Linked DNA regions of Homo sapiens: regions 2 and 3 are each linked to region 1. The links come from fine-mapping of genetic effects on gene expression. A gene starts in region 1. Each other region holds a variant in brackets. All regions are shown on one strand. Distances are between the middles of the regions.

Region 1 (10,935 bases):
TAGTCTCAAATCTAAAAGGTCCCGTGTAATTTCTAAAAGTCCCCTCCCCAGGTGATTTTCACAACACACACAGGTTCTGTCTCCTGAGGATGACAGAATTATCCAGCCACATTTTACAGTGAAAACTTCCAAAGGAGGAAGTGATTGGAGAACTAAAAGGCCACTCTAGGCATCTGAGTTCATGCACCTTCCACCGCAGAGCCTTGTACACAGCTGGCTGTCAAGAAATATTTAATAAACAAATGAAATAATAACACAATGTGTGCATTTAAGAAAACCATTGCATGTGTTACTACATTTAACAAAATCAATTATTCATTTAAAATAATTGCATGGGGTCCCTGGATCCCCAAGCAGACCAAGTTATTGATGGAGGGTCCCGGCTAGTTTCAGTGCCTCAGAAAGCCTAACGGGATGGTGAGTTTCTCTCACACGGAGCCGGCCAGCCTGTCCAACACACCACGGGTCTCTACCTTTGGCTATAATGAGTTCAGTGAGATTTGATGATACCAGTTTTCTCAAGGCAATCAGGAGTTCTGACTGGAAGTCATATGTGTTTCTGAGGAATAAAAATGGGCACTAGGGCCGGGTGCAGTGGCTCACGCCTATAATCCCAGCACTTTGGGATGCTGAGGAGGGAGGATCATTTGAGGCCAAGGGTTTGAGACCAGTCTGGGCAACATAGCGAGACCCCGTCTCTACACAAAAATGTATGTCGGGCTTTGGGGTGGCACATGCCTGTTGTCCCAGCTACTCAGGAGACTGAGGCAGGAGGATCACTTGTGCCCAGGAGTTTGAGCCTGTAGTGAGCTATGATCGAGCCACCGCACTCCAGCCTGGTGGACAGAGTGAGACTTTGACTCTAATAAAAGAAAAAGGATACATGAAGTCTACTTAAATAAACACAATTTGTTTCAGAGACAGTTTGTCATAAGATGGAGCTTCTGAGGGGGAAAATTATTTTTAGGGGATCTTTGAAGGTCAATGCCAAGACTTCAGGCCTGCTGCTTGCTCTGAATCCAACGAGCCTCAGACGGAGTCCCAGGGACAAAGGGGACCTGTGAGCTGTGTTTCCTGCTTGTGTGTTTTCCTTGGTACTCTATAAAAAATACTGTCTTCATGTTCAAATCTGGACCCTATATGTTATTCATCATTCTTTGTTCTTTGTTGATAAATTAAAGTTTGATGGAACTTCCTCACCCACTTTTCCATCAGTCACTCCCGCCACCAGAGCCACTCCTCAATTCAGCACACTGTGCATGAAGCTGGCATCGTGCACCGACCACTGATTACACTCAGGCCAAACACAGGGGGCCGACGGGGCAGGCAGAGACCGAAGGTCCTGACCTCCTACCCCTGTGCAGGAAGGAACATCATGTCTCATACAGATGAAAAGAAGAACTAATTTTTACTAATAATAACTGACATTTCACCGCAGTTTCGTTTATTTGCATATATTACGTATTGTAATATATGTTATAAATATATGCTATCAGTTAATATTTACTTTCATGTATGTTGTCACATATACAGTGTTGGGCACACAGTAAGCATTCAATAAATGCACATGAGCCAAGATGGTAAAGCAGGCCGGCGCAGTGGCTCATGCCTGTAATCCCAGAACTTCAGAAGGCTGAGGTGGGCAGATCACCTGAGGTCAGGAGTTCGAGACAAGCCTGGCCAGCATGCTGAAACCCCGTCTCTACTAAAAATACAAAAATTAGCCAGGCATGGTAGCGCACGCCTGCGCACACCTGTAGTCCCAACTACTCGGGAAGCTGAAGCACAGGAATTGCTTGAACCTGGAAGCAGAGGTTGCGGTGAGCTGAAAGTGTGCCACTGTACACCAGTCTGGGCAACAGAGCAAGACTCTGCCTCAAAAAAAAAAAAAAAGAAAAGAAAAAAAAGGTGGTAAAAGCAAAATACTACAATCAGCCCAGTGCACACCTGCAATGACAGATAATGAAGAAGTTGACACGAGAGTGAAGAAGATTCAGACTAAAGCACAGAGAGGCTTGGGAAGATTTTCTTATCTGACATAAAGAGGGAAAATACATTGGTCCAATCACTGTTATTTCCATATCATTTGGTCTCCATGGATACCACCTAACTTTCCTTCTGACAGGAAAAAATTCACTGACAATATCGGATTCCACTGTGAAATTTTTTTGATACTTTATATAAAAGTTATTCCATGTTTAATCTTTTATCATTATTTATATATGCTCAGAAGTAAAATCCCTCCTTGCTGGAAATTCTATGAGAAAGATAGTGTCTAATCCAGTCATGATTATCTGGCCTTTTTACACTAAGAATAATCTGATATAATTTTGAAAGTTAATGCCTTACACATTTGTAGACTGCCATAATTTATGCAATGTTCTTTCATATACAGTATCTCAATTGTTCATGAAAGCAACACTTACGAGATATAGTTAAAAATTATTATTATCCTCCTTACAGCTAACCCCAAAAGGTAATAACTATATTTTTTGTTGTTAATGGTCAGCTCACTCACCAGAACACAACCTAGTGTAAAGATGCTGTCTTTCTCGCTGTCAGTTGAGTATACAGAGGCTAGCACTGTGTCTGGCTTATAATAGATGTTCTAAGGATATTTATTGAGTGTGTACATAAATTCTCTTGTCTGCGTTAAGCCCTTTTTGGTATAAGGCAGATAAGGGAACTATAACCCAGATACTCCATTTAGATAGAGTACAGTGGTTTTTCACTATCAAAAGGATATTATGTGAAAATGCTCTAAAAACAACAGTTTTGTACGAGATGATGTTAAGAATAAAAATATAACATCGTTGGTAACATGAGAAAATTGATGCACATCAAATGTGGAGCATCCAAAGTGTCTATTTTTCCAGTAAGTTTAAACATCTTTTGCTCTGGTGCACTATTTGCCTAATAAAGTGTTTCAGAAAGTGGGATAAAAGTGGGACCATTGTTCATAAGGCTGTCAGAACTTCATGGCACGCATGTGTTTGCCATAATTTGCTTCCAGTTTGACTACAGATCCTTACTTTTGATTATGCTGACATTTTTACAGGTAAGTAAATCTGAAATAACTGGAACTTTCTCTAACAAAAAAATGACAACTCACTGAGAATGAAATATGTAAATGTTTAATTTTAACAAGCAGTTACAAATCGTAACAGACAAGAACTCTTGGATCTAAGAGACCAAAATGTAATTTCTTACATAACAGACAAAGTTACAAGTTATAATCGTTCACTAATTACAGTGAAATTCCGGACTTTGACACATCAATCAATAGATGTTCCAACGTTCCCCCTAGAGATCCCAGTTCAAGTCTTAAATATTTCATCTGCTGAAGTTTCCTCAGAAAAGGCTCCTTTTCCCAGGATTTTTTAGGTTTCTACTTTTGCCCCTTCTCCCACTAAAAGAAGAATAAAGGAAAGTTGGGGAAATCAGAGAATCCTGAATCTGCGTGCGTGGTGAAGTTAAACAGAGTCACCCTCTGGGCCTGGTAGGGATAACTGCATCTGCCTAGCATCAAGACTATCCACCGCCTGGTCTAACCCCAGACCCCGTTGTGCACCTGCCCTTAAGCACCAAAAACTGAACTGCTCAAAGAGAACCTGCAGTCGATATGAAAACTAGTAAATGACTGCAGGCTTGACAGCAGTCTCGGTGATGCCTGAAAATCCACAACAGGAAATCTAACTATCCTCCATACCTCCTGGCCATTCATCAAAAGCAGACCGAGTCACAGCCATAAGGAGGCCGGTGGCTGAAGACGAATGCCAGCACCACTTTTCCTCATTTAGAACAACTGAGTTTTTTCCTTCCATAACCAAGGACAAGGAGCAACCGGAGGGAGGAGGTTGAAGAGGGAGGGGGCGGGCAATATGTCCCCAAGTTTCAGACAGTAGCGGGTCAGAAACGAGCGAAAGCCACCTCGCTCTTCTGAGCTACCTCGGCCGCCAGTCCCCGGGATCACATCCGCAGCCGAGCGCCAAGGGTCCGGCCTACACAGACTGACCCGGGCGTTTCACCTGGTGCCCGACCACGGCTCTGGCGCCCTGCCCAGGCTGCCCGCCTCCTTCCCCTCCCCCGCTTCTTAGGGAACAAGGAGGAGAGGGTGGCAAACGCACCCAGACCGGGGGCCAAGGGGAGACGCCGGCGCGTGCTGGGAGGGGCATGAGTTACACCCGCGACCCTTGGAACTTGGAACGGCTTCCCCAGCCCCGGCGGACGCCGGCCCCCAGGCCGTGCCACTGGGAGCAGGCGGGCGCCGCGATTGGCCGCGGCCGGCTTCACTCGGTGGGCGAGCCCTACCGGCGAGGCGGAAAGGAAGTGGCGGCCGCCGCGGCTTTGCACCAACCATGTTCGGCCAGCGGGCGAATGTCACCCGGCGCCCGGAGCCGGGTCGGAGGGCACGGGGCGGGCACTCGCGTCCCCACCCCGCCGCGGCCCGCGCCCCGGGACCCCGAGGGGACGCCGGCCCCCACTGCGCCGCTCGGTCCCCGGAGGCTCCCCGCCCCCACCTCGCCCGCTCCGTAGCCGAGGCGGGTCAGGCCCAGCGCGCGAGGCCGGCCGGGGGCGCCTGCGGGGACCCGGGGGCGCACGGCGCTAGGCCGCGGCCCGGGCGGCTGACCCCTCGGCACGGTGCCTTCCTGGGACGCGCCGCCCGAGCCCCTGGCGCGCTGGGACAAGTGCAATGACAAAGCCCCAGGGCCCGACCGGGCGCTGGCCGGCGGGAAGGAGGACGCGGCGTCCCTTCTGAGCGGCGGCGGCGGCGGCCCAGCCCCCAGGAAGCAGGGCGCGTCGGCCAGGCCCGGCGCCCGGCCCGGCTCCGAGCCCGCCCTCCCGCCCCGGCCGCTGGCACCCGACGCCCGCGACCCGACCCCGAGCCCGGCAGGCAGGCGAGCCCCTGGACCGCCGCGGGGCGCCCCAGCAAGTTTCCTCTGGCCGTGGCTGGAGGCGCTCCTCCCGGCCGGGGAGCGGTGCCTGCTTATTTACGCTGGAGGCAGCCTGGAGAGGCGCCGCCGCGGGCACCGAGAAGGACCCGCTCCCCTCCTTCGGATCCGGTGGCGGCGGTGGCTGCACACACACACACGCGCGCACACACAAACACGCACATACACACAATTTTGTTTTAAATGAGGCCCGACTCCAGCTGACCTGCACCCCCACACACAACACCTGGGGCGCAGAAGCACACACAGCAGGTCTGTGTCCATGGAGCCACCTCTCCGCATCTGCAAATCCAAAAGTGAAATTAAACCTCCACCAACCTCCTCCTCCTCCTCCCTCTCTACCTCCTCCTCCTCCTCCTCCTCGCAGCCTCAGCAGCCCCAGTAGCAGCAGCAACAGCAGCAGAACCTGCTTCCCCTAAAATCAGATGATCCATAATTGCGCCGACTGTTCCTCCAAAAATCAGTATTAATATTTATGAACCCCGGCATTTTCCGTCTGCAAAACATCGTGTCAAGGCATCAGGACACGCATACACACACGGCCCCCCACAGTCCCCAGAAACATGCCCTCGAGAGAAACACACACAGTCACAACTATTATTTGAAAAATGTTACCTCTCAGTGTGCTTTTTTCACGCTACCAATACAATTCCGCAAGGTATAAGTGTTGCTAGGGTATGTGAAATGGAAATGAAAGCCCGTCAGTTGAATAATCGCAGGAGCAAAACTAAAAGTTACTCCCCGGCTTGCCTGAGAACAGTCCAGATCGAAAGCAAAACAAGGAGAGGAAACTGCGAAGAGCCGCGGCTGGAAATCCCCCCACCCCCCGCCCTCCTCCGGCCGCGCTCCCTCCCTCGCCTCCCCTCTCCGCCCTCCTCCCTCCGCCCTTCCTCCCCAGTGTTTGTTTCAAGCTTGTGCAACCGGGAGGTGGAGGCGGAGGGAGGGCGCGAGCGGCCCGGCCGGGAGGTGCGGAAGTTCGCCGCAGCAGCTCATTGGCGGGCAGCGCCGCTTTCATCATTTCTCGGAAAAGTCAATTTCATTTTCGCTTCCCCAGGTCGCGGCGGCGGGAGCAACAAGCAGCGGCTCGTGAGTCCGCGGCTCGCACCCAGGGGCGCCCGCACGTGCGGCTAGAACGTCCGAGTCGGGGTCCGGGGCGGGGGGCGCAGGCCCGCGGCGGTAGGGGAGGAGAGCGGGCACCCGAGTCTCCATCCTCAGGGTGGCCTGAAGGTTCCAGGAGGGCGTCCGGCGAAGGCACGGGGCTGCGACCATCCAGTTAGCAGGGCTGGTGTGACTGTTGAGAGTAAATGAAAATTCGTTTTGTGACACCGACCACCTCCAAGGAATGAAAGGAGCAGTCAGCCGAAACGACAGCATTACTTGCGTCCTTACCTAATTGGAACCTTATCCGTGGCTGAGGGTGCCACCATTGGAGGGGCCGCCGCCCCCTCTGACACCACCTGGCGCTCCGCTCCATTTAGGAGCTAGAACGAAAAGGAGGCCCATCCCCCAGTAAGTCACAGCCCACGCCAAGATGAGTTCTGGAGCCTGTGCGACCGAAGTTTCTTCACCGCAGGGCGAGGTGGACAAGGGTGTGAGTTACTTTGACTTCAAGACGTCTCAGTGGCGGCTGGTTCTGGAGAGAGGCTTTATGCTGGAGCACTTCCAGCAAAGTTCGGCTGGGGCCTCCTTAACTCACTGGCTGGTCACCCTTGGCCTCGGTTTTCAACCAAAGCCTAAGGCCTCAGTTTTCAACGCTGTAAATGGAAATAAATGAGAGAAGAAAGTACAGCCCGTGTGACAAGTGCAGCAAGCAATGCAACTTCCTTGGGACCTACCCTTTGTGGTCCCTTGCTTTAAAAGTATAGATTCACATTTAGTTAGACCTGTTTCTTCCTCGCATGCAATTTCACCAGTCTTTTCCCAGACTTCTGTACTCAACAGAGGAAGTTCCTTCCTGGGAGACCATAGCTGTTTGTATGTAAAGAGTTGCGAAAAAACAAAAGCAAAACAAAAAACTCCAACACCTCTCTGTCACAGAAGTATTGAATTATATAGACTGGAAAAATGGAAGTATCCAAGAAAACGCGTGTGGTAAGAAAATGGCTAAGGTGCAGGATTCTGTTTTGTGGCTCTGGTCTCAGAAATAGACCTCACATACACATTATTCCTTATCCCCTCTATTATAATACTCACTTTTTTTTTTTTTTAAGAGACAGGGTAGGCCGGGTGCAGTGGCTCATGCCTGTAATCCCAGCATTTTGGGAGGCCAAGGCAGGAGGATCACCTGAGGTCGGGAGTTTGTGACCAGCCTGACCAACATGGAGAAACTCCATCTCTACTAAAAATACAAAATTAGCCAGGTTTGGTGGCGCATGCCTCTAATCCCAGCTACTTGGGAGGCTGAGGCAGGAGAATTGCTTGAACCCAGGAGGCGCAGGTTGTGGTGAGCCGAGATTGTGCCATTGCACTCCAGCCTGGGCAACAAGAGCGAAACTCTGTCTCAAAAAAAAAAAAAAAAAAAAAAGAGAGGGTCTTGCTCTGTCACTCAGGTTGTGCTATCATAGCTTACTGTAACCTTGAACTCCTGGCCTTAAGCGATCCTCCTGCTTCAACCTCCCAAGTAGCTGGGACTACAGGCCTGTGACAGTGCCTGGCCCAGGCACTGACTTTCTTATGTCATATAGCAATGACCACTAAGGGAAAGTCTATACAAACTATAGAATAGTTGTCATTCTTTACCCAACCCGGGACACAAGTTAAAAACCTAGTATTCATTTTTTTTTTCCTGTACCAAAACAATCATCTTCCTTTATTTTTCCTGGAGCGGGAAGAGGAGAGTGGAGAAGAAGGGAAGAATGCAAAGTGTCACTTTGAACTTCTCGTTCACCACACACGTGGGAGTCCACTCATGTCAGCAGCCTCCGTGCACAGGCCCCAGGTGAAAGAAAGAATGAGGTCTAGTTGGACCAGCTAACACTGCCTGCCTTGTGTTTACGAAAGGCAGCTGCCTCTGTGGTGTGATTTCAGGGGAGCCAGACAGGGCCGGGGCCACGAACCTGCATCCTGCATCCTAAGCACCTATTGCCATGCGTGAGGCTAACTGGAAACTCACTTGCTGGGTGCAGATAGCTTCCAAACTATTGTGATGCTCATGCTTGACTTCCCAAGGAACGTGTTTCAGGAAAGGCCATTGCCCTCATTATGGTCTTTGATAAGCAGGAAGAAGTTTGTTGTTCCTTTTTTTTCTTAATGCCCTACTTCGTGCAACATACATCCAATCAGTCATATCCTATTGACGCTACCCCTAAATATCTCTGGGCCTGGCCCGTGCTCAGGGCACTGCCTTCATTCAGTTACTGCACTTGCCTGCTGCCTGTGCTCCTGGTCTCCTGCTTGGACTCCCCCAGGCCAGCAGCCACACTACTGCCAAAATCCAGTCGAAAATTAACTTCAGGTAAAGCACAATTCCAAACCTAACACTGCCCCCCTCAAAAGCCTCTCTGTAGCCTTCAGAATAAAGACCATATTATTTGACAAGACACATAAAGTCCATTGTAATCTGGCACCAAACGACCTTTCCAGCCTCATCTCCTGCCATTGTGTCCCACAAGCCCTACATCCCTCCCTTGCCAAACCAGCCTCCGCTCCTTTTTGTCAAACAACAGAGCTGTCCTCTTGTTCATTGTTTTATCTTTAGCATGGTGCCCAGCACACAGGCACTGAAATACTTGTGAATTAATAATTACTTGCTCTTTTCATCAGGCTCTCATAAAATATTTTAGACTTGATCAGAGCCTTGTTTTATATTTTAATAGCTTTTTAATATAAATGTAATTAATGTTTCTTGTACAGAATTTGGAAGATGCAAGAATGGTGAGAGAAGAACATAAGCCACCTGACATCTCACTAGTCAGGAATAGACCTGTGGATATTTTTATGTATTTCCTTCTAGTGATCTTTCTAAGGGACCGTTTCCAATCCGCATCTCCTCTGTCTGTGTGTAGGATTTAAGAATGCTGACTGTGCAGGCTGCTCTCCACGATGCCCATGTGACAGCCTGCTGTCCTATTCTAGTTCTTGGCCGGTTCCTCGTCTGCTGCCAGCCCCCTAAATTATGGTGTTTCCAGGCATTCTATCCTCAACCCTCTTATTTTCTCATTCTACATGCTTTATCTTTGGGTGTTCTCCTCCACGCCCAGGGCTTCAGATATCACTATTTGCTGATGACTCCAAAATCTGTAACTTCTGAGCTCTGACCACATTAACTCCTACACATGTCTCAGGTGCAACAAATTATACATGTCCCAAGTCAGAGAGAACATCTTTTCCACAGCCTTGCACTGTTCACTTCATTGATTAGCTGGGAAACTGGGAGGACTCACAGACTGCCCCCTTTCCTGAGTCCTGGGGCCTCCCTGAAGCATGGGTGTTGCTTGCAATTTTCCAGGCCCCTAAACTCATAAAACATAGACAGAATGAATTTCTGTTCTTAGGCCCTTGATGACATGTCACTGCAAACCAAAAATGTACAAATGAACCAAAACAGCCACATGGTACTGATATACACAGTCAAGAAGTATCTTAGCCCTTTGATGAGATGCATATAGTAATAAATCTCTGTGGAAACTCCAGCCTTTTTGGAAGCCTGGGTAAGAAAGTAGGCTCAGTGGCTCACGCCTGTAATCCCAGCACTTTGGGAGGCCGAAGCGGGTGGATCATGAGGTCAGGAGATCGAGAACATCCTGGCTAACACGGTGAAAACCCGTCTCTACTAAAAATACAAAAATTAGCCGGGCGTGGTGGTGGGCGCCTGTAGTCCCAGCTACTCGGGAAGCTGAGGCAGGAGAACGACATGAACCCGGGAGGTGGAGCTTGCAGTGAGCCGAGATCACACCACTGCACTCCAGCCTGGGCGACAGAGCCAGAGCGAGACTCCATCTCAAAAAAAAAAAAAAAAAAAAAGAGTAACCTTTGTCATACTGAGGAAATCTGACCAAACACTTCAGTCTAACGTGAAAAAAGTTGAAGGGTCTTTTATAGTGAAACTAGAGTCATCTCCTGGATGAAGCATGTTTGTATTTCACCTGTGGGATGGAATATCCTAAAAGATCTGCCTGGCTGCCTCAGGACTCATTTCTTTTCAGGGGAGTCGGGTGCAGACAATATTACTTGAGCACAATAGTGCCGGATCTCTCCTTGAGTGGATCTTAACTAAGGAAGAAATGTAAAGACACATTCAAAGTTGACCCCTTTCAAATGGGTTTTTAACTTAGTTTCCTAAAATTGAAACAAAGTTTCATAAAATGATCATTCAAATAAAATCTGTTGAGTGCTCAGGAACATTTCCCAGCACTAGGGATACAGCAGTGAACCAAATGAATGAAAGTGCCAGCCTTCTAAGACGTTTTCTTACAGTCTTGTAGGTTGACATGTTGATTTCCACTGTGGCATCCCAGTAATGGCACCGACATCATCTCCACCTGTAATCACAGCCTTCAGAACTGTACATGCAACTTAGGAATGTGTAACATGAAGGCATATAAATGAAAACCTAAGTATTTATAGCTATGATTTAATCAGGAGCCCCAGGTCTGCAAGCAGATGCTCAGTTTTCTCCCCAGAATCACTGGGACCACTTCTGTCTTGGCCACTGGAGCTCCCCTCCAAGGTGCTGCAATTCAGGAGGTTAGAAAGTCATGGAAAACGAGGGTTCCACCCTTGCCAGAACAGTTGCCAATACAAAAGCCACAGATTAACAGTCCTGAGTTGCAAAGAACATTATTGTGAAGTCCAAGTTGAATAAACACACAGCCAAGTTAAATTTTTTGCGGCAATAGAACAGCAATGGGATTGAAAAAACCATCAGTCAAAGTTCAAAGGTCATTGGCCTCAAGTTGAAAAATTCTTGAGCATGTTTGACTGTTACTTTATGTAATGGTTCCTTCCATTTTACAAGAAACTAGGAAGTGGGGGTCATTTTGTT
Region 2 (10,935 bases), 160 kb before region 1:
GTGCACAGTTATTGAAAGAAAAATTTGTACTCTGGAGAACAAGGAGGAGACGTAGTTCCTGCACCCAAGGATCTCATGCAATGAGAACACAGAGCAGGAATAAGATAACTCAAAGTGTGTGCATAATGCCAGGTTAGACAGACAGACAGACAGCCAGGCCACTGTGAGTGCAAGTCCCTGTAAACCAAAAAGAAAATTCTAAGGCCCCCAACCATCTGAATGCATGGCCCCTCAGCCAAGGCATTCCAAAGTTAACCTATAAAACTAGTTCAGGTCATGAGGGGAAGGGGGAGCCAGACGTGCGTCTTGATACCCTCCTTCCTTTAGGAATTACTGATAGAACAGCCTCTTGATACCCTCCTTCCTTTAGGAATGACTGATAGAACAGCCTCTTTAAGTCTGAGTAGAAACATTTATGACCTATTCTCTCTGAAGCCTGTTACCTGGAGGCTTCATCGGCATGACAAAACCTTAATCTCTACAACCCCTTACCATCACCCAGACATTCCTTTCTCTTGATTCCAGGTCTTTAGATAATAACTCAATCAACTGCCAGTCAGGAAGTCTTTGAATCTGACTGTGACCTGGAAGCTCCCCCTTCCGGTTGTCCCAACTTTCCAGACCAAAACAATGTACATGTTACATGTATTGATTGATGGCTTATGTCTCCCTAAAATGTATAAAACCAAGTTGTAGGCCCACTACCTTGGGCACATGTGGTCAGGACCTCCCAAGGCTGTGTCCTGGGCATGTTCTTAACCTTGGCAATATACAATCCTAGATTAACTGACACTTGTCTCAGATACTCTTGGGGTTTACACCCCTTACTCAGATGGGGGCAGGCAGTGCCTGGCAGCAATCCCGGGAATCTCCCAAAACCTAGATCTTCAAGTACAAGCTGGTCAAGCAGAAGAGAGAATTGGAAGAAACAGAGGAAACAAAGCACAGTGGACTATTTGTGTACCTTCAAGTAATGTGCTGGGAGAGAAGCTGGGACCAGTCGTGAGGGATCTGGTAAAACCTGCCGAGTCTGGGAACCAATGAATGAACTTATTAGGTGGGTCCTAGAAATTTTTCTCTGGCAAACTGAGGATACATTTCAGGGGGTTATGAATCACCACCAGCATGCTCTCTGCTCTTCATGGACATCAGAAGCTGGGGGAAAGCTTTCTTTGTGAGCCCCCAGCCTCAAGGGCAGGCAGTTCCTGGGCTGAGCCTCACTGGTGAAGCCTTTATGTGTGATGCGGGAACTGCCCACACACCAACTCCTGTTTTGCCCTTTTAATGGGCAGCATATCTCCTCAGAAGATGTGCCGCATGACCATTTTTGAGCCCACACCATCTTCACCCTCCTAGAATCTGCCTCTGATTCTTGGAATTTGGGGAAAACCACAGGTTTTTCATCATTTCTCAAAACTACTAGTTTGCAGCAGCAGTTCTGTGAAGGTGGGGAAGAAGCTGAGGACACCGGTGCCATGTTTCTGTTCTTATTCACATTTCTCTGTTCTCTGAAAGCAAAATAATGCAAAGCTATAAAGACCATCAGGGAGAATCAGAGCACAGACAGGATTCCAAAGGATGGAGGCTGCCCCCGACAAAACCCCTCCCCAAAGTGGGGAGGGGGCAGAGAAGAGGCCCCAAGATGCCAGGTGCTTCCCTCTGCAGCACAAGACACACTATGGGGTCTGCGCAAAGACAAAACATCGATTTGGGTGCAGTCTTCTTGGTCTCATTATTTTTATCATCTCTCAGAGGATGTGTGGTTGTCCCGATTGCTGTGCTCAGGACAGGAAGGGAAAGCAGAGGCTAACATAACTCACCCGGTCTGCAGGACAGAGGAGGAGAGCAGGCTGAAGGCCTATCCACCTCTGCACGCATCAGGCGGCTTCTGCATCCTGAGACACCCTTCCTGAATCGACACTTGGGCCCAGCCTGGCACTGGGCCCCATAGACGCCAATTAGATGGACGTGGTCTCCACACTGCAGGTGTTCACAGTACTCACTTGCTCCTGCAGACCCCAAATGCCAGAGAACTCATTTGCTGACCTTTAGCTGATGACAGGGGCTGGAGTTGACATTTGTATCAACCCACTGCATGCCTCAATGGGTCACCCTTCTGTGAGCAGGTGCTTCAGAGGCACAGCAGGACAGTCCTGGAGGCTCACCACAAAGCAGGGCCACCACACGCATGGGGAGAACTAGAAACCGATGACTTGGAATTTCCCTGCTGTTCTGGGTGGGCTTTGATGGGCTTTGCTCTGACTTCCTCTCTTAGACCTCTGGGCAGTGTTGCTACTGACGCAATAGAAATCAAGCATCCTGTTTCACTCCAGCAGAGGCTGCATTGCAGCAATGAGGGGTGTTTGCCCCATACCCAGAGAGGTGCTTCTGGGGAGCGAAGGCCCATAGCAAATGGGCAGCTAGCACATCAGGCCCAGGAGTCTGCTGCGTTGCAGAAGCTGCTGAAGTGTTGGCCCTGCCCACCTCCCAGGACACCTGTGGGAATGCGGGAATTCCACAAATTATGGATTCTAAGCCCCAGGAGATTTAAAAGGAAGGGAGAGGGAGAGAATGAGAATCGATGCTCTATTATTTGATGAGTTTGTAGGCGAGTGTGTGAGAGCAGAATGTTGAGACAAGACTTTCAACTTCGATGTAAGGAATATCTATTAAGCCCCTGCTGTGTGCCGGGGCTGTGTGTGATGCCTAAAGAACAATTGGCAACAGCCTCTCAAGGTGTGTGTGTGTGTGTGTGTGTGTGTGTGTGTGTGTGTGTGTGTGTTAGCGGCAGGTATATATCACAAGTTCAAAAGGGAGTGTCATAATTGTATTAAAGAGAAAAAACTACCACTGCTGGATTTAGAGTTATGAGATCTGGGTTTGAGTCCTGGTTCTACTTATCAGCTGCTTCCTTGAGTGTCCTCTCTATAGAATAGGGATCATAGCTCTTCCGAACATCACAGGGTTTGGGAAGGTAGAAAAAAGAAAAGGGATGCAAAAACACGTGGGGAAAAGGAACGTGGTTCCACAGCAAGAGTGGGCCCTCGTGTAAACTATGAGCTTTGGGTGATAATGGTGCATCAACATAGGCTCCTCACTTGTAAGGGTCAGACCCCTCCGGTGCCAGATATCGACAGCGGGGAGGCTGTGTGTGTGGGAGCAGCGAGGAACTCCCCGGACTTTCTGCTCAATTTTGCTCCAAACAAAAAATGGCTCTTAAAAAAGAAGTAAATTCAAAAGAAAAAAGATATAAAAATACATAATCCATTTGAAAAAATTACAATCATTAAAAAAGAAAAAAAGGAAAATGGAAAACTACTATAGACATGGTTTGAGTTGATATAAAGCTTTGATAGAAAGGCACAAAGAAAATGGCCTAAGAGTTGAAAGCCCAGTGAAATCACAGCTCACGAGGGGTACTTGAGAGAAACTAGGGGAGAAAGTTTTAAGACACAGTCTCCAGCAGAATGGGCTGTCATGAACCCATGGAGTAAGAATTGGGGTTAGGTCGGGAGGAGAACAGCTGCCTTTTCATATCATCCATCCCTCTGTCAGTCACCCTAGGCAAGAAGCCATCCAGAGAGACTCCGAGGCCAGGGACTGAGTGTGCTCGCACACCTTGCCCTGAACCTGCACTTGTGTCCCTATTTCTGCCTGTGCCGCCATAACAGATACCACAGCAGGGTGGCTTAAACAACACCGGTGCATTCCCTCTCGACTCCGGAGGCTGGAAGTCTAAAATCAAGGTGTGAGCTGGACGGTGCTCCCTCCAAAGCCCTGAAGGGAGGACCCTTTCTCGCCTCCTCCAGTGTGTAGTAGCCCCAGGAGGTCCTTGGCTGTTAGCAGCATTGCCCTCATCTGTCTCACATCTTCTTCCCTCTGTGTCTGTCTCCACATGGCCTTCTTCTCCCTGTGAGCACCTGTGTCCAAATTTCCTCCTCCTCCTCCTCCTCCTCCTTCTTCTTCTTCTTCTCCTTCTTGTTTCTCTTCCTCCTTTTCCTCTTCCTCTTCTTCTTCCTTTTTCTTCTTCCTTTCTCCATTTCCTTCCCTTTCCCCTTCCCCTTCCCCTCCTTCTCCTTCTCCTTCCCCTTCCCCTTCCCCTCCTTCTCCTTCTCCTTCTCCTTCTTCTTCTTCTCCTTCTTCTTGTTCATCTTCTTGTTTTTAGAGTGGGGTTCTCACTCTGTGGCCCAGGCTGAAGTGCAATGGCACAATCATAGCTCACTGCAGCCTCAAACCCCTGGGCTCCAGCAATCCTCCTGCTTCAGCCTCCTGAGTAGCTGGGACCACAGGCATAAGCCAGCCACCATACCCTGGTAATTAAAAAAAAATTTTTTTTAATTGTAAAGATGCAGTCTCACTATGTTGCCTAAGCTGGTCTCAAACTCCTGACCTCAAGCAAACTTCCTGTCTTGGCCTCCCAAAATGTTAGGACTACAGGCGTGAGCCATCATGCCTAGCCAAATTTCCCTTTTCTTACAAGGACAATAGTCTTTTGGATGAAGGCCCACCTTAATGACCTCATCTTAATTTGGTTACATCTGTAAAGACTCAATTTCCAAATAGGCCACATCCATAGGTACTTCAACCTATCTTTTAGGGGGATAAAATTCAACCCATAACAGTGGACTAGAGTAGTTCATCCCCTCACCTTGTCCCTGAGTGCCAGGCAGAGAGGAAAACCCTGGTTTAGAATTCTGAGACCTGCATTTGTATCTGAGTCTTACTAGCTGCATGACCTCGGACAAGTTACCCAAACAGTGAGCCCCAGATTCCACATCTATAACAGAGATCGTAATGCCTACAACACCTTCTCCCCACCGTTGATGTGAAGATTCCATGAGACGGTGTTAGTGGATCACTTTGTAAACGCTAAAACTCCAGGCAAACATCTATTGTCATTTCTTCAAACGAAGGGCCCGGCTTCAACCACGTGTGTCTACAAAAAAAGGGGGCAAGTTTCCATCAATACTCTAATTACAACCAATTGCATGCATTTCCCGTCTGCCCACATGGGAAGTTAAACCCCTCAAAGCACCTTTCTATTATTTCTGGGGGTTCCCCTGGGCTGTGTCACACGTGTTCTGGAATAGGTTCCCACGTACCTGAG[C/T]GTCTGCTCTTCTTCCCCGCTCCTGAGCGACCAGGACTGCCTTCCCAGCTGTTGGCACTCCCAAGATGACCACTGTTCTGGTGCCACTGAGTCCCCTGACTTAGGCCTTGCAGAAGGAGCACGCGCTCCCCACCTTCTCCTCTGCTCCACCTCATTCCTCTCCGCACCCAGCTTAAGCTGGGCTATAACCTTTAACCAGGCATTGTTTGAAGTGTCAGCAGAAGGGACGCTCAAAACAGGGGGACTTGGGGCTGCTACTGCTGCCGCTCAGTCAGGCCCCCCGAGCTTGCCTCCCTGGAGCAGGGCCTGCCCCACCAGGGTGCTGTGAGCACACCTGCCCCCGACCATGCAGGGCAGCCCTCCAGAGACTCGGTGAGAGAAGGAGCTCCTCCACCCATGGGAGGCAAACTCTGCCTCCCTGTTCCTCAGTTCCTGTCCTAGGACAGGCCACTTTCCAGAAGGACCGGCAGTGGGAATTCCCACTCCATTCGGGGAAGTCCCCATCCCTTACCCAGAGGCCTGCAGCATTGCTTCCTGACCCCAAGCCACAGGATTCCACTTGCACATAATAGTCCAGAGGCTGCAAATCAGGCACACAGACCTGTTTCATTTGGGTCATGCAGTTTAAAAAATATATATGAATTGTTATCAATATTCCCATTGAGATAGTTTACACTTAAAATATCACAATTTGGCCAGGCGCAGTGACTCACTCCTGTAATCCCAGCACTTTGGGAGGCCGAGACGGGTGGATCGCAAGGACAGGAGATCGAGACCATCCTGGCTAACACAGTGAAACCCCGTCTCTACTAAAAATACAAAAAATTAGCTGAGCGTGGTGGCGGGCGCCTGTAGTCCCAGCTACTCGGGAGGCTGAGGCAGGAGAATGGCGTGAACCCGGGAGGCAGAGCTTGCAGTGAGCCAAGATCATGCCACTGCACTCCAGCCTGGGCGACAGAGTGAGACTCTGCCTCAATAAAAAAGTAAAAATTTCTGTCTTCTCTTGAAAACAACATTTAGCCTCTGGATTTGCATGTCAGTCACCAGCTCAAGCTCTGTAGCAGCTCGCTATAGTTGGAATGTGTGTCCCTCCACATCTCAGGTTGAAATGTGATCCCCGGTGTTGAAGGTGGGGCCTGGTGGGAGGTGTTTGGGTCATGGGGGTCCCGTGGGGGTCCCATGGGGGTCATGGGGATCCCTCATGAATGGCTTGGTGCCCTCCTCATGGTAATGAATGCATTCTTGCTCCATTAGTTCCCAAGAGAGCTGGTTGTTAAAATGACCCTGGCGCCTCCCCACACGCTTGCTTGCTCTTGCCATGCCATCTCTGCCATCTCTGCTCACACGGCTCCCCTCCACTTTCCACCCTGAGTGGAAGCAGAGCAAGGCCCTCACTAGAAGCAGAGGCCTGATCATGAACTTTCCAACCATCAGAATCGTGAGCCAAATAAACCATTTTATATATATATATATATATATAAAAATTGCCCAGCCTCAGGTATTCCTTTACAGTAACACAAAATGGCTTAAGACACAGCTCCTTCCTCTAAATGGAGCCCATGTTTTCCTATTTGCCAGATGCCCATGGTCTCTTTTAGTCCTGTGTATCGCCTTCCCAGCCCCTGCAGCCATCTGAATTGGTGGGACCATGCTCCTACAGTGGGCCTCATAGGTCCACTCCACAGAGCGCTGGGCCAGAGCTCGTTCTGGTGCCATTCTCTCCTCCAGCTTGGTGCAGCGATTCTGTCTCTGTGTCCTTCCTGCACAATGCTGTCGTGAGCTTTCCAGCTCCTAGAAACACCTGCACAAAGAAGAATACAGCCTCACAGCAAGAAGAACCGGCAGGTTAAGTGCAGGCTGCACGGCAGGTTGCAGCAGAACTCACCCTCAATCCATGTGGGGCCGGGAATCATTCCTTCCCACTTTGTGCCACCTTCTATCAGCACCATAAAAAAACTGGTGGAGACAGGGTCCTTGCACAACAAGCAAGTTCAATTGCCATCTAGTTAATGGTAAGGACCCAGTCAAGCAGGAACAGTCTGCCCCAAAGGTAAATTTCAGTTTAATCTCTTTTAGGAAGCCCCTGGTTGCAATTTTTAAGGAGTCAATTTTCTAGAAATTTTTCCATAAAATTATTTTTTTAACCTTATAATTTGGGCACCTATTAACATCATGTCGCTGGTGTTTCGATAGACCCAAGGTGGAACATGATAACAGATAGAAACCAAAACTTTACAGGCAGATAGTCATAAACGAAATGATGGTGGGAGGGCTGGGGAATTTCCATAGCACTAGAACCTCTGACACACTGTGGGCATAAAAGAGACCATGAAAGAAGTCACACATATTGAATTTCTCTTTGCATAGAGGCACAAATGCATCTCTCTTGTTTGACCTTGAAATATTAAAAGAACCACAAAAAGGTATCTGCTTTGGGAAATCCCTCATGCCCCAGTACTGAGAAGGGCAGGTGGACTCAGTCACAGGGCTGTGTCCCTTTAGGTCTATTGACCTCAGCAGGGTTGTAGGGAGAGGTGCCTCTCCCTCATTTTTTTTTCTAATATCCTCCCCTCATTGCTTCCTCACTCAGCCTACCTCCCCAGTTACACAGCCAATGCAACCTTGGCCCATTTAACCAAAATGTTGCCAATGTTATGGGACAGCAAATGAACACAGAGAATTCCGAATTTTCTGCCCTAGAAGATACAGCTTTTGGCCAGGTGTGGTGGCTCACACCTGTAATCCCAGCACTTCGGGGGGCCGAGGTGGGCAGATCACCTGAGGTCAGGAGTTCGACACCAGCCTGGGCAACATGGTGAAACCCTGTCTCTACTAAAAATACAAAAACTAGCTGGGCGTGGTGGCACGTGCCTGTAGTCCCAGCTACTCGGGAGGCTGAGGCAGGAGCACAGCTTTTCCGTCTTCTGTGTAGGTTCCCCACATTTCCTCCAAGATCCTGGGGCCATACTTAACTCCTACCACCTAGAATCCTTTTCATTCCTGTCCCATTTGGGAGTTCTGGTCCTCATTCCTGTCTGAGGACATGTCATCTGATATAATTCCTAGCAGGAAAGTCCATCCATGTCAAAGACCACACATGCACATATGGACCTAGGCCTTAATATTCAGCCTACAACAAGATGGTCAACTCTAGCAACAAAGCCCAGCTATTTGCAGCGAGAACACACACCTCCAACAATGTCAGACCTGACCCATGCACTAAAAAGGATAAATTCTGCCCAGGTGGATGGGCTAGTCTAAGCTTTCTCGTAAATGGGGGCCTGACGTGGCTACTGGCTTCCTAACATCTGAAGCACTTTTATCAGCTAATTCAACTAAACTTTGCAAAGCTCCTCTTAAAGCCATACTCCCTGGTGTCAATGGACTATTCAGAGAAGAAAACAGTAGCGTTTATGGGGTGAGGACTTGGGTTCAAGTTCTTCTCTGCAACTTAAATTCTCTACAGCTCACTTCCCTCTCTTGTCTGATCCATTAATACCTAGTCCTATAAATAGTCCTATAAATTTGCACACAAACTTAGTTATTAACCAGCACCGAGGCTGCATGGGGTTTCGTAAGATGACTTACAGTGATTACTTACACGTGAGTTGAGCATAAACATCCGCCTGGAACATTCAGTCCGCGCCTCTGCAGCACGGCTGTCAACTCTAATAAATGTTTCCAGCATTAAAAAGCTTGTTTCTTATGGTGTCAAGAGAATAAAGCCAATTGGTGGTGAATCAGAAATATCTAGGGGGAGGTCTTTTGGAGAATCATGAATAAATATGACAAAAAGAAATCCATTTTAATTTGTATTAATTACTGAATAATTTCCTGTAGCATAATTGTTAAATTATTAATGAATACCATGAATTGTTTATTTTATTATGAAATAATTCTTTTTAATATACTTATTAATCTATCAGTGATAATTATTAATTAACTTACCATATGGATTAATTAATGCATAATGATGAAGTAGGTTGAGAAGGGCTGTAGCAAAAGATGGAACAAAACCAGGGGGATAAGCAAGAAAAGAACTCTGCTATGTCATGGGGCTTCCAGAAAATCAGATGAAAACATTCTGCAACTGGAAAAGTACATGTTCTCTTCTGTAATATGTCCTCTGCATAAATGTTTTAAAACTTCAAGTCGCCTTACCTGATCTTTTGTTTTTTTTTTTTTTTGAGACAGAGTCTCACTCTGTCGCCCAGACTGGAGTGCAGTGGCACTATCTCAGCTCACTACAACCTCCACCTCCAAGGTTCAAGCGATTCTCCTGCCTCAGCCTCCCATAGTCAGCTGGGATTACAGGCATCTGCCACCACACTTGGCTAATTTTTGTATTTTTAGAAGATACAGGGTTTTGCCACGTTGGCTAGGCTGGTCTCAAACTCCTGACCTCAGGTGAGACACCCACCATGGCCTCCCAAAGTGCTGGGACTGCAGGCATGAGCCACCGCACCTGGCTGTCCTACCTGATTTTTAAGGAGTAAGTAATCATTTGTGTAGATTTTAGTTTTTTGTTTGTTTGTTTTTATTTTTTTTAAAAAGTATAACATTTGGCCAGGTGCGGTGGCTCATGCCTGTAATCCCAGCACTTTGGGAAGCCGAGGTGGGTGGATCACAAGGTCAAGAGACCAAGACCATCCTGGCCAATATGGTGAAACCCTGTCACTACTAAAAATACAAAAATTAGCTGGGCGTGGTGGTGCACACCTGTAGCCCCAGCTACTTGGGAGGCTGAGGCAGGAGAATCATTTGAACCCGAGAGGCGGAGGTTGCAGTGAGCCGAGATCATGCCATTGCACTCCAGCCTGGTGACAGAGCGAGACAGCGTCTAAAAAAAAATTATATATATATATATATATATATATACACACACACACACACACACACATAATATTTAATATGTCAACAAGATTTTTAGATTTTTTTCTTTCTTTTAACTTTTATTTTAGGTTCAGGGGTGCATATGCAGGTTTGTTATGTAGGTAACTTACGTGTCATGGGAGTTTGGTGTACAGATTATTCCACAGCCCAGGTCATAAGAATAGTACCTGACAGGTAGTTTTTCGATCCTCACCCTCCTCTCTCCCTCCACCCTCCAGAAGGCCCTGGTGTCTGCTGTTCTCTTCTTTGAGTCCTTGTGTACTCAATGTTTATCTCCCACTTATAAGGGAGAATATGTGGTGTCTGGTTTTGTTTCTGTGTTAGTTGGTTCACGTAGGATAATGGTCTCCAGCTTCATCCATGTTGCTGCAAAGGACATAATCTCTTTCTTTTTTATGGCTGTATAGTGCTCCATGGTGTGTATGTATCACATTTTAGATTTCTTATTTTAAAAAAATTCAATGCCCCCAAAATGTAATCACCTACAAACATTTCACCAGGTGAAAACTTTCTCATCCCACAAACTTTAGGCCATGGACAGTATGCTTTTCCAGAATCTAGGGAAAAGTTAAAGCCCTGGGCACAAGGTAAATTCACTTAGAATTTCAGGGTAGATACTGATTTTTATTAGGCTCTTGTGCCACTCACAGAAATGCCACATGCTCTTAGTCATCAGCCTCACACTAATACCTGTATACCACATCCTATTCAACAGAAAGGAATATCCACTTTAACACCCATCAGGAAAAAAAAAATGCTCTTTTTAAAATAAATCACTGACAATTTTCTCAAATAAAATGTCGGATCAAAAAATAAATGCAGGCCAGTCATGGCAGCTCATGCCTGTAATCCCAGCACTTTGGGAGGCCAAGACAGGTGAGTCACAAGGTCAGGAGTTCAAGACCAGCCTGGCCAACATGGTGAAACCCCGTCTC
Region 3 (10,935 bases), 75 kb before region 1:
CACGCTGACTTCTTACACAAGGGAGCTGACTGCAGCTGGGCCTCCAGATCAGTGTTACTATCGAACTATCAACATACGTTGTCATTTCATTTTCCCTTTTGATTAGTTTGAATTTGTTTTTGCTTTTTGTTTATTACTTACTTCGAATACAATGGAATAAAGAAGTCTGGAGTTGCTTCTCCAGCAACTCCAAACAAATGAAGAAGCTGAAGGTGTTCGTACAGTACCAACAGGCACATGAGTAATTCACTTAACCTTTCTGGTCTCAGTTTTCCTGAAAGCATCTAGGGTGGGAGGGAAGGGGAGGATTTGGATTAGATGATCTCAAAAGCTCTTCCAGTTCTAGGGTGACACTGGTTGTAGGTTCACTCTCTATCCAGTCCAGTTTTTAACGCCTCGCTGAGGATATACATATTGTCTAAGCAGGAACACTGCGGGAAGGGAGAGGATGCATTTTCACCTGAAAGGCTTTTTGCACTCTGACATTCTGCTACACTTTCTGGAAGGCTCTTGTTCAGCAAGTTTGATTTGAATTTCTTTCTATTGATCATATTCTCAATTACTTTCACCAGGAGTAAATTATTTTCAAATCGGAATCCTCTTAATCTCAAAGCGATTGTGTCTTTGCTCTGCCCAACAAAATGCAAGCCTGGTGTGGTTTCCCGAAGGATTCAAAGCCTTTACTGATGGCTGCTGGTCAGCAGGCGATCTCCACTCTCTCATTATAGCCAGTGAGTCCTTCAGATGATGTTTTCTTCTCGAGTCTACTCTCCAGCCCCTCTTACCCATCCTCCCCCACCCCATTATTCTACTGTGGTTTTCTTCTACTAAACCATCAACCACCTAATAAAATTCTGATGCCACAGATCAGGCAAGGGGTCACTTTGTAATGCACCTTTAAACATGACATGTCTCTCCGCCAGAGCTTCCCAAAGTGGCACTTTGAAATGTCCCTCCCTAGTATGAAAGTTTCACAAATCACACTAGAATTTTATGTTGTCTTAAAACATCCAACGCAAGTACTATCTCTTCTCTTTCTCATCATAATATTTAGACCACAGAGGAGAAGACAGACTTGCAAAACTGAATGTGGTTTTGTAATATACTACTGGGATTATGATTCAACGATCAGTAGGGGGAAAAACTAGCAAACAGCAGCCTCCAAATACCAGTTTCCCAAACAGATGAATAAAGGTGGTCAGAGCATGCCGGGCGCGGTGGCTCACGCCTGGAATCCCAGCACTTTGGGAGGCCGAAGCGGGTGGATCACGAGGTCAGGAGATCGAGACCATCCTGGCTAACACGGTGAAACCCCGTCTCTACTAAAAATACAAAAAAAATTAGCCGGGCTTGGTTGTGGGTGCCTGTAGTCCCAGCTACTCGGGAGGCTGAGGCAGGAGAATGGCGTGAACCCGGGAGGTGGAGCTTGCAGTGAGCCGAGATCGCACCACTGCACTCCAGCCTGGGCGACAGAGCGAGACTCCGTCTCAAAAAAAAAAAAAAAAAAAAAAAGGTGGTCAGAGGAGATTGAAATTCAGATGAACAGCCCAAACAAAGGAACTCCATCATGAAAAACAGGCAAATGGCCGACTCTACTGGAGAACATAAAGCAAGAAAGGTGAATACACGCAGAAAGCTGCCTTTCCTGACAGCATGTTATACAATTTCTGACGGAGGAACTAAAATTAGCTACAGTCAGTAGCAGGGAAATGTTTTACACCACTGTGAGCTCTAGAACATCAGCAGCGATGGAACATTTTGCCTCCAACCAGTAAGCCTCCCTCCACGAGGTTCTGGAGAATCCAGACAATGAAAACAACGGAAAGAACCAAAGGCCAGGCTGAAAAGCCAGGCTCCAGCAAAACCTCCTGTTGACTGCCATCCTGGCACTGAAATCCTTCCTTTCAAACCTATGCAAATGTCCTGAAGAGAGTAATGAAATGTTCATTTCTCTCTGCATGGATCTGCTGTTCTCCGGAATCTTTTGCTTGAGCAAATGCCACTGCTGGCAGAACAGCAAGAAGAGGTCTTTCCAGAATCCCCAAGAAGACCTCAGAAAAGTCTTACTCAACAGATAAACATAGAAGTCTATTCTAAAGCTCCAACCCCCTAAAAAAAGAAGAGAGAAAGAAAACCACATGGAGTGTAACGATGCCTGCAGCAGCAGGCTATAGAAGAAAGTCATGGGTTTTTAGCCATAACTATGTAAATATAAGCAAAGTGGCTGAGTGTTTCACGCTTCGGTTAGCTCTACTGTAAAATTTAGGCATAAACATTCTGCTCTGCCTCCTTTGGTGGGTCCTTGTGAAAATCAAATGAGATCACGGGATGTGGCTGTGTTCTGAACGGCAGAGCCCGTGCGCTGTCCAGGGCAGCGACACAGGGCGGGCGTTAAGGACCGGCCTTTGGCATCAACGGCTCATGGGTTCTAGCTGTGCTCCCAATCGTTCCTCCCTCAGACACGCTGCTCTACCCACGCCAGCCGCAGATCCATATATATATATTTTTTTTTCTTTTTTTTTTTTTTTAAGACAGGATCTCGCTCTGTCACCCAGGCTGGAGTGCAATGGTGCAACCAGGGCTCAATGAAGCCTTGAACTCCTGGGCTCAAGGGGATGCTCCTGCCTCAGCCTTCCAAGTGGCTGGGACTACGGGCACATGCCACCACACCCGGTTAACTTTTTTTATTTTTTGTAGAAGTGTGGTCTCACTATGTTGCCCAGGCTGGTCTCCAATTTCCGGGCTCAAGTGATCCTCCCACTTCAGCCTTCCAGTGCAGGGATTACAGACGTGAGCCACCACACCCAGCCAGATTCCTCACTTTTAAAAACGGGATGATGACGATACCCAGGCTGACAGGGTTACTCTAATTATAATTAAACAAGTCAACTGTATCATACCAGGCATGGCAGCTCATGCCCGTAATCCCAGCACTTTGGGAGGCTGAGGCGAGCAGATCACTTGAGCCCAGGAGTTCTAGACCAACCTGGGCAGCAAGGCAGAACCCTATTTCTATTAACAACAACAACAAACAACAACAACAACAGTCAACTGTACCCAAGCACTGAGCATGGTTCCCAGGGCACAATAAATTTGCAAAACATAGTAGTTCTTGTGACTGCACTCTGGCAAGGACCAAACAGGGACTGGCACGTGTAAGAGTCCAAAACGCATTTGCTGAATAAAGCACCGAAGACAAGCTTATCCTGTTTGACAGATTATAATCTTCCTGTGGCCAAGGTCTATTCTCACATTCCACTTACGCTCCTAGCATAAATGCACACTAGGACCTATGCTAAGTGAAATAAGCCAGTCACAAAACAACAAGCACTATGATTCCACTCATAGGAGGTACCTAGAATAGCCAAATTCACTGAGATAGAAAATAGGCAGGAGGTTGCCAGGGGCTGGGGTGGAGGAGGGAAAAGAGGACTTAGTGTTTAATGCAGACAGAGTTTCAGTTTCGCAAGATGAAAAACGTTCTGGAGGTGGATGCTGGTGATGGCTGCGACAACATTAATGCACTGAATGCTACTAAACTGTGTACCTAAAAATGGCTAAAATGGTAAATTTTATGTTAATGTATTTTACCACAATTTTTAAAAGTGAAAAAAAAAAGAAAGTTGGCATTCAGGGAAAATGAGATTAGACTTAGTGGCTGATAATTCACAAACAACAGTCCTTTGAGTCAACTCTAATTCCAACGCTGGTCGGAGCCAGTGTTGGGGGTGGCACCTACTGGAGGACATCCCATTTGGCAGCGTGTAAAGAGCACAGGGAAGAATCCCTGAACTATTTGCTAGAGCTGAACTGCAGTTTCCCAGGATGGGGACTCTGCTTTTTATTTTTAATATCTGCAAGCAGTAACACTGACTCAGAATTTATATTTCCTAATTACAATTGATTTCCACAAAATTCAATGGAGATCATCAGGAAGAGAGGAGAAGATGAAGTAATGTTGGCGAACGAGAGGAGCCATCCTTTTACTCTGGAAGAATGGAAGAACCAACTGGATCTGTTCCTCCCCCTGTGACTCTGCCTGGGCCAACTCCTGTCATTATGTAGCCAAGTCCCTGGAGAATTGGAAATGGCTCAGTCATCTGGCCTAATTAGAACCTGTACTAGATATAAAAAGAAAGAGAAAATATGTGGAAAGGACAAGTACGCTTGGTGGATGGAATGGATCTAGCAATGAGCTTGGGGTCTGAAGGCTGAGGTCAAGTCCTGGCCCAAACACTTGCTGACTGTACGACCCTGCGCAAGCCCCTTCCCTTTCAGAAATGAAGGAACAGGAAGAGATCATCTCTAAGGTCCTATCCAGCCTGCTCAAACTGAGAATCCATTAAAACACTCTGCCAAATTTCTAATAACTTGGGCTAATAAATTAGACTCTGATGAACTACTGCCCTAAAGAAATCTTATCTGTAACCATATATAAAAATGTTATGGGAGGCCAGGCACTGTGGGTCACACCTGTAATTCCAGCACTTTGGGAGGCCAAGGTGGGCGGATCACCTGACGTCAGGAGCTCGAGACCAGCCTGGCCAACATGGTGAATCCCCGTCTCTACTAAAAATACAAAAATTAGCTGGCATGGTGGTGTGCGCCTGTAATCCCAGCTACTCAGGAGGCTGAGGCAGAAGAATCTCTTGAACCTGGGAGGCGGAGGTTACAGTGAGCCGAGATCATCCCACTGCACTCCAGCCTGGGAGACAGAGCGAGACTCTGTCT[C/CA]AAAAAAAAAAAAAATAAATAAATAAATAAAAAATGTCATGGCCAACTGAGTAAAGAAATGCTGTGATCCTGTCCTCTACCTGAGAACAAAAGTGTCCAAGAAGATGTTGATCAAGATAATTAAAGTATGAAAAACTCCAGGGAGAATAACTCCTAGGACAGAGGAGGGATGCTCCGTGGGGTGGTGAGATGGGTGACCCTAGACCAAAGGACTGCGCGGCCGGTTCCCACGCCTCCCGGAGCCTCCCGCTGACGCTTACCTGCATAGGAAGACACGGGGGAGATCTGCAGAGGGTAGAGCTCGCTCATGCTGACCGGCTGCTCGTCGCTCTCAGTGGTCACCTCTACAACTTGGCAAATGTCTGGCGGATTGGTGACAATCTCTTGATTCTCAATGTTGCTGTCCAGATGGGACTGTCCTACAACTTCAAAGAAAAGACAGCCATCATGCAAAGTCTGCTGACCTCACAATTCTAGCACACTTTCTCAAGAAAGAGTCTTCCCCAAAAGAGCCAGGTCGCCAGGCTCCCATCACCATCTGTCCCCTGCCATGGGGCTGAAGAACACGCCTGAGCTCTGTAGCTCTGGTGTGATGTCTCCCAGGGAGCAGCCGGCCAGCACTTGGCTCCCCAGGTCTATCTCCAGCATGCCTGCCAATGGCACGCACGGTGGCCATGTCCTTTCCAGCTCAGCAGAATTCCACAGTCAACCCCGTCACAGCCGAGGCCACAGGACCAGAGGCGGCATCCAGCCCCAGCCCCAGGGCCAGACATGACAGTACTTTGAACCTGACCGATTTCTGCTCCCTGCTCTTGCTCCAAAAGAAGGCGCTGTGCTTATTTTCTGGGTTCTACAATCCAGGGAGACATTATCAAACCTTACTAAAGAGGAAGGGCCATGAAAATCTACCCAATTGTGTCACATCTAGCTGTGTGAATGTTTGTGTTCAGGTTTTGTATGAACATAAGTTTCCATTTCTCTGGGATAAATGCCCAAGGTCCCCATCTAGCTGGGTGGCGCTCTGCTTACGCTCCCAGCTCTCTTCCTGCTCTACAGGCAACATGTCCAACTGGCTGAAATATCAGCACAATGGAATAGAGTCAGATCTCCAATTCTGGCAAACATTAGTAGCATCAGCTCCCCGGAACACTGATAAGATGGATTCTGACCACCCTGGCTCTGAAAACTGCCTCAAATATTTTTCTTATATTGTTTATTTTGAGATCATTGTAAACTCACATACAGTTGTAAGAAATAATACAGAGAGATCCTGTGTGCCTTTTACTCAACTTCTTCCAATGGTTATAGGCTACAAAGCTAGAATACAATATCGCAACCAGAGTATTGACATAAATAACAATCCACCCATCTTGTTCCGATTTCCTCAGTTTTACTTGCACTCTTTTGTGTGAGTGTGTACCTGCACCAGGACTAAGTGCAATTTTATCACACATAAAGGTTCATGTACCTACCACCACTGTCAAAACACCAAACAGTTCCATCACGACCAATCTCTCTCACGTTACTCTTTGTAACCATAGCCACCTTCCTTCAGTACCTCCCCATCCATCTCTTTGTCCATGACCCCTGGGCAACTATTAATCTGTTCCCCATTTCATTAATTTGTTCATTTCAAGGATGTTATATTAATGGACTCATACAGTAGACTTTTGGGGCTGGCTTTTTTTTTACTCAGCATAATTCACCGCAGAGTCACCCAAGTTGTTGTGTGTATCAGTCATCGGTTCCTTTTCAATTGCCGAGTAGTATTCCACGGTATAGGTGTACCAGTGTGTTTATTCTCCCCTCTGAAGGATGTCTGAGTTGCTACAAGCCTTTGACTATTACAAATAATGCTGCTATGGATGTTTGTGTTCAGGTTTTGTATGAATATAAGTTTCCATTTCTCTGGGATAAATGCCCAAGAATGCAATTGCTGAGTCATATGGTAATTTCATGTTTAATTTTACAAGAAAATTGCCAAACTGCTTCCCGGAGTGACCGTGCCATTTTACATTCCCACCAGCAGTGTCTGAGTGATCAAATTTCTCCACAGCCTCGGCAGCATTTCGTGTCATCACTGTTTATTTATTTTGGCCATTCTCATAGGTAAGTCATGATGTTTCATGGCCATTTTAATTTGAAGGTCCCTAAGGTCCTGCCCTCATTTTGAATGAAACTGACCTCATACCACTGTTAGTTGGATGAAATGTCCCTGAAAATTAGCTTCAATAAATAAAGGTGAAGAAATAATTCCCAAGGTCCTCAAAGCACTTTGCCACCATCATCAACGTTTTACTCATACCTGTATCTGTTATTTTAACATTTTAACCCATAAGGATGACAGAGAAAGCATCGTTATCCTGTTATAGATGAAGAAACTCAGGCACAGAGAGGGAGAGTGACTTGTCCAGACTCGCACAGCTTGGAGTATATGTGGTGCTCTATGTTGCAGTCATTTTCTCACCAATCGGCAAAGTATTCAGGTTAGAACGCATTCCAGTCTCCTTGAGACGCCAGGCGTCATGGAGAGGCTCGTTTTAATCACTCCAAGTATTTTATTTTCTGAAGTATTTTTGTTTATAAACAGGTTCCTGTTTTAATTGCTGTCTGTGGAGTGACAAGCACATTATCTGATTTCTACGCAGGGAAGGTTTTAGAGGGCAGTGGCAATTCATAGGTTCTTTAATAAAGAAAGGAAAGGCACAAAAGAGGCTCAGAAAGGGGATTTGGGGCTGTGATACAAGAGTCCAAAAGCCACAGCATACAGAATGGAAGGGAAACCGGATCCTGTTTAGGTTTTCCTGGTGGGGATAAAATTAAAGAAAAGGCAGGCAGGCTATATATGGCAGGCAGACTCCCAAGCCCATTTATTTCATCCTTTGGATTATCCTACGTGAGGGTGAGGACATCAATTATGCAGGTCACTAGACACAGACTGACGCTGACCTACACCAACCTCTCTCTAGTTTCCTCTGCCTCTTCCAGCCAAGTAAAATAAAATGGCAGGAAAACAAGATAATGGCCTGCCCTATCCTAAGTCCTAAGAAGCAGCTGGTGGGTGGAGGTAGAAACCAAATGGGGTGTGAGAGTTTGAGGAGGGAGGGCGCAGCGATACCTTGCATACTAAGGCAGTGAAGGTCTTAGATAAATGTGACTTAAGTCAAAGCCATTTTAACTTCCAATATTTCAAAACTCATCTCTCCTTTGCACGTTGCTCCTAACAGAAAGAGGGCAAGCCAGCTGGGACTACAAACAATGGCAGCAGCTCAAGTATCCCCCTAGTCAGATCCCTTTGTTCCAACCAGGAATTCTTTCTCTCACTGCTTCTCCCCATGACGTCCTAGTCGGTTATTCAACTAACAGAGATTTATGGAACACCTGCTTGCACCTCCCAGCCTCCCAGGGCTAGAAGGAGCAGCGGAAGATCGATGCAGTCAAGGATCCGGTTTGTAAGAAGTTCATATACATGGCTATAGGCCAGCGACTAACCATCTAGAGAGTCAGTTTAAGGCCGTGAGCACTGAAAAGAAAGAAAAGAAAAAGAAGGGGGCCATACAATGGAAGCTAGAGAAGTGGGGTGTTTTTTCCAGTTTGAGGAATCAAAGGCTTCAATGAGGTAGTGGCACAGGAGTGGGGGTTGAGCAACAGGCAGCATTCACCATGCCCCTGACTTCTGGAGCCCCTTCCTGACCCGCCAGCACAGACTGGCCTCTCTCCCCTGGGTGCCTCTCACTCACTGTCCCCGTCACTCGGCCGAAACTACGATGGGCCGCGACCTTGTGACACTTCTGACCTCAAGTTGCTGGTTAACGCTATATACCCGTATGGAGCTTTGAGTTGGTCAATGGCATCTCTCCTCAACCAAAGTATGAACTTTTTGTGTCCAGTCATGACACATGCTCACAACTCCCACCGGAGAGGCGCTCAGGGACTCTCCCCTGAATAAATGGACATGTGATGGGGCCGAGGCTCACTGACTGGAGCCAGAGTGGAGTCCTGCAGGGGATTGTGACAATCTGCAAATACGGGACGTGACAATTAATGTTTTCTAGAAAAATGTCAAGACTTCTGACAAGTGGACTCTTGAAACCTTTGGGAAGTGATAAAGACAGCCGGCTGTGGGTGCGAGGGCTGGGGCCAGGGAGGAAACGTGTTGGGGTGATGAAAATGTTCTGTCTTGACTATGGTGGTAGTTACATCACTGAGTGCGTCTGTCAACATTTATAGGACCGTGTGCCTTAAAAGGGGTGAATTTTACCGTATTTCACTTAATATACATGACTTGGGGAAAAAAGTAGATAAGCACGTCCATGCAGATTTTAGGTGTATCCTGAATGCGGCTGACCAGGAGAGAAAAGTCAGTCTGTTTTCTGGGCTATGATCTGGATACCAAGTTAATATAATTACGTTATCTCTCAGGCCAAATTCCCCCATAGGAGTGTGTTGCTTTATGCCCTGGTAAGGGACAATGGCTTCTCTCCATCCAGACATCGTGGGTACTTTAGAAACTTTCCAGCTCTCGAGTGAAAGCCCATGAGAGAAGCAGGGAAATCCCAATATCGAAATGCTCTCAGATGAGCATCAACACTCTCACTAACCAGTCTCTATCTGTTTCTCTCTCTCTCTCTCGACATGTGAACTGATTTCCCTGGACCACCAAGCGGCAAAACAGACAGCAACACTGACTCCTGACAGGTGAAAAGACAGGAATAACAAACTTACCTGCTACAGTAAACAGTCAGAAGTGGCACTCCTCTGGGTACCAAAGAGTGTCCTGACTGAATAATGACAAAACCTGTCTTTCTGAGCACTGATCTTTGCCTCTCCCTACCACCTCCCAAGACCTCACAACCCATGAGGAAGGCACAATAGTGATCCCCATTCTAGACATGCTGAAACAACCATACAAGACAGAACTACATGACTAATTCAAGGTCAGACAGACAATCAGCAGCAGAACCGGGATTCAATGTTAGCCTTACCCAACTCCAAATTTCAACTCTTTATAATATGCTCTCCCTAACAGAGAGAGTTAATGAAGTCCAAACTGAGTTACTGAGGGCTTTCTTAGCCCCTCTCAGGATAAAAACTTTTGAATCTCACCTTAGTGAGTCTCCAGGCTCAGAACTAATAGTGACATTTCTTTTCAACAGTTATCTATTGTGTGCCAGGGAAATTCTCAAACAGAAGAACTAGAAATCCACTAAGTTTCTCCAGTTTATTAAAGTCAGCACATCTGAAAAGAGTCACCCACAGGAATGCAATTTTATCTGAATCTAGTTGCTGAGAATTATAACAATATTATTTATGGCTGGTTACTGATGAACCGGTTTGCTTCTTTAAAAGGTCATTCTCACTTTATTAGCAATTGTTGACTTAATGTAGGTCTCCACCTGAGAAAGCAACTTGCTCCCATGCCTCAGAGAAAGTGCTTAAAAGCAGATTATTAGAAACAGAGGGGTCCTTGGAGGTGGTTTGGTCCTACCATTTTACAGTTGAAAAAAGCTGAAACCCAGAGCTCAGGTAAATTGCTAAGGTCACCCAGGTAGCTGCAGAGTCAAGAATGAAACTTACTAGCAGGCATAAAAAATCAGGCCATCAGCAGAGCATCATGCAGGGAAATTTCCCCTGACCCCTCTGAAAGTTTCAGGAGTTAAACTTCACACCAGCCTTGATGACATGGCACAGATGGAGGCTACTTTTCTTAATCAAATATATTTTAATATGATTTTGGTAATATGATAATCATATCATTTTACCCCCTTCTAGCCCCAGAGTGATTTATCTGTACATTTCACTTCATCCTCACAATAACTCTGCGAGATGGGCAGGATCAGTACGATTATTTCCATTTTCTATATAATTTTAAATATTTCCATTTTATAAATAATTATATATTGTTTCCAATCTATATAGAAATTGAATTTCAAAAGATTAAGGAGTTTGCCCAAAATCACATGGTAAATAAAAAACTTCAGAAGCAGGTCTAGAACCCACGCCTTTTGACTTCTAATCTCGTGCTCTTTCGGTATAAAATACAGCCATGATTTGGTTTAGGCACTCGAGAGCCATGGTGGGAGAGAAGATCACCGCGGGGCCGGTGACTCCGAGACAGGGATCTGTAGGTGCCTGGGCCAGGCTGTCCCTGACTACAGGCTGCATACACCTCACCAGGGTGACAGAGTGCAGGAGGAGGCAAGA

Direction of the effects. Alleles are on the strand shown, and positions count from the first base shown. SD is a standard deviation of normalised expression in the study named. Not every link is listed here.
For the expression in whole blood of the gene that starts at base 5,739 in region 1, C is the high allele of the variant in region 2 and T is the other (small effect, 0.09 SD a copy in GTEx).

What was found. PIP is the estimated chance that this variant, and not a neighbour inherited with it, causes the effect.
Region 2: its variant is the best candidate, but not a certain one, in a credible set for the expression of IRF2 in whole blood (GTEx, PIP 0.88).
Region 3: its variant is the best candidate, but not a certain one, in a credible set for the expression of IRF2 in monocytes after LPS (Fairfax 2014, PIP 0.84).

Annotation. Positions count from the first base shown.
Region 1 is chr4:184,468,812-184,479,746 of GRCh38, forward strand. It overlaps IRF2 (interferon regulatory factor 2), which reads right to left and starts at 5,739. Exons shown (of 9, transcript NM_002199.4): 1 at 5,568-5,739. It overlaps IRF2-DT (IRF2 divergent transcript), which reads left to right and starts at 5,991. Exons shown (of 1, transcript NR_186573.1): 1 at 5,991-8,493. RefSeq lists silencers at 3,998-4,067, 4,128-4,817, 4,898-4,947, 5,758-5,877 and enhancers at 5,908-6,097, 6,448-6,777.
Region 2 is chr4:184,312,140-184,323,074 of GRCh38, forward strand. It overlaps MYL12BP2 (MYL12B pseudogene 2), which reads right to left and starts at 2,190. Exons shown (of 3, transcript XM_047416561.1): 1 at 2,166-2,190; 2 at 1,821-2,009. The coding sequence starts at 2,190. RefSeq lists enhancers at 1,681-2,182, 2,101-2,370, 2,501-2,660, 5,343-5,842, 7,230-7,529. The variant C/T (reference allele first, on the strand shown) is at 5,108.
Region 3 is chr4:184,393,924-184,404,858 of GRCh38, forward strand. IRF2 (interferon regulatory factor 2) reads right to left here. Exons shown (of 9, transcript NM_002199.4): 7 at 4,992-5,156. Among named protein-coding and RNA genes, the nearest start is that of LINC02362, 17 kb to the left of the region's middle. RefSeq lists an enhancer at 1,515-1,724. The variant C/CA (reference allele first, on the strand shown) is at 4,732.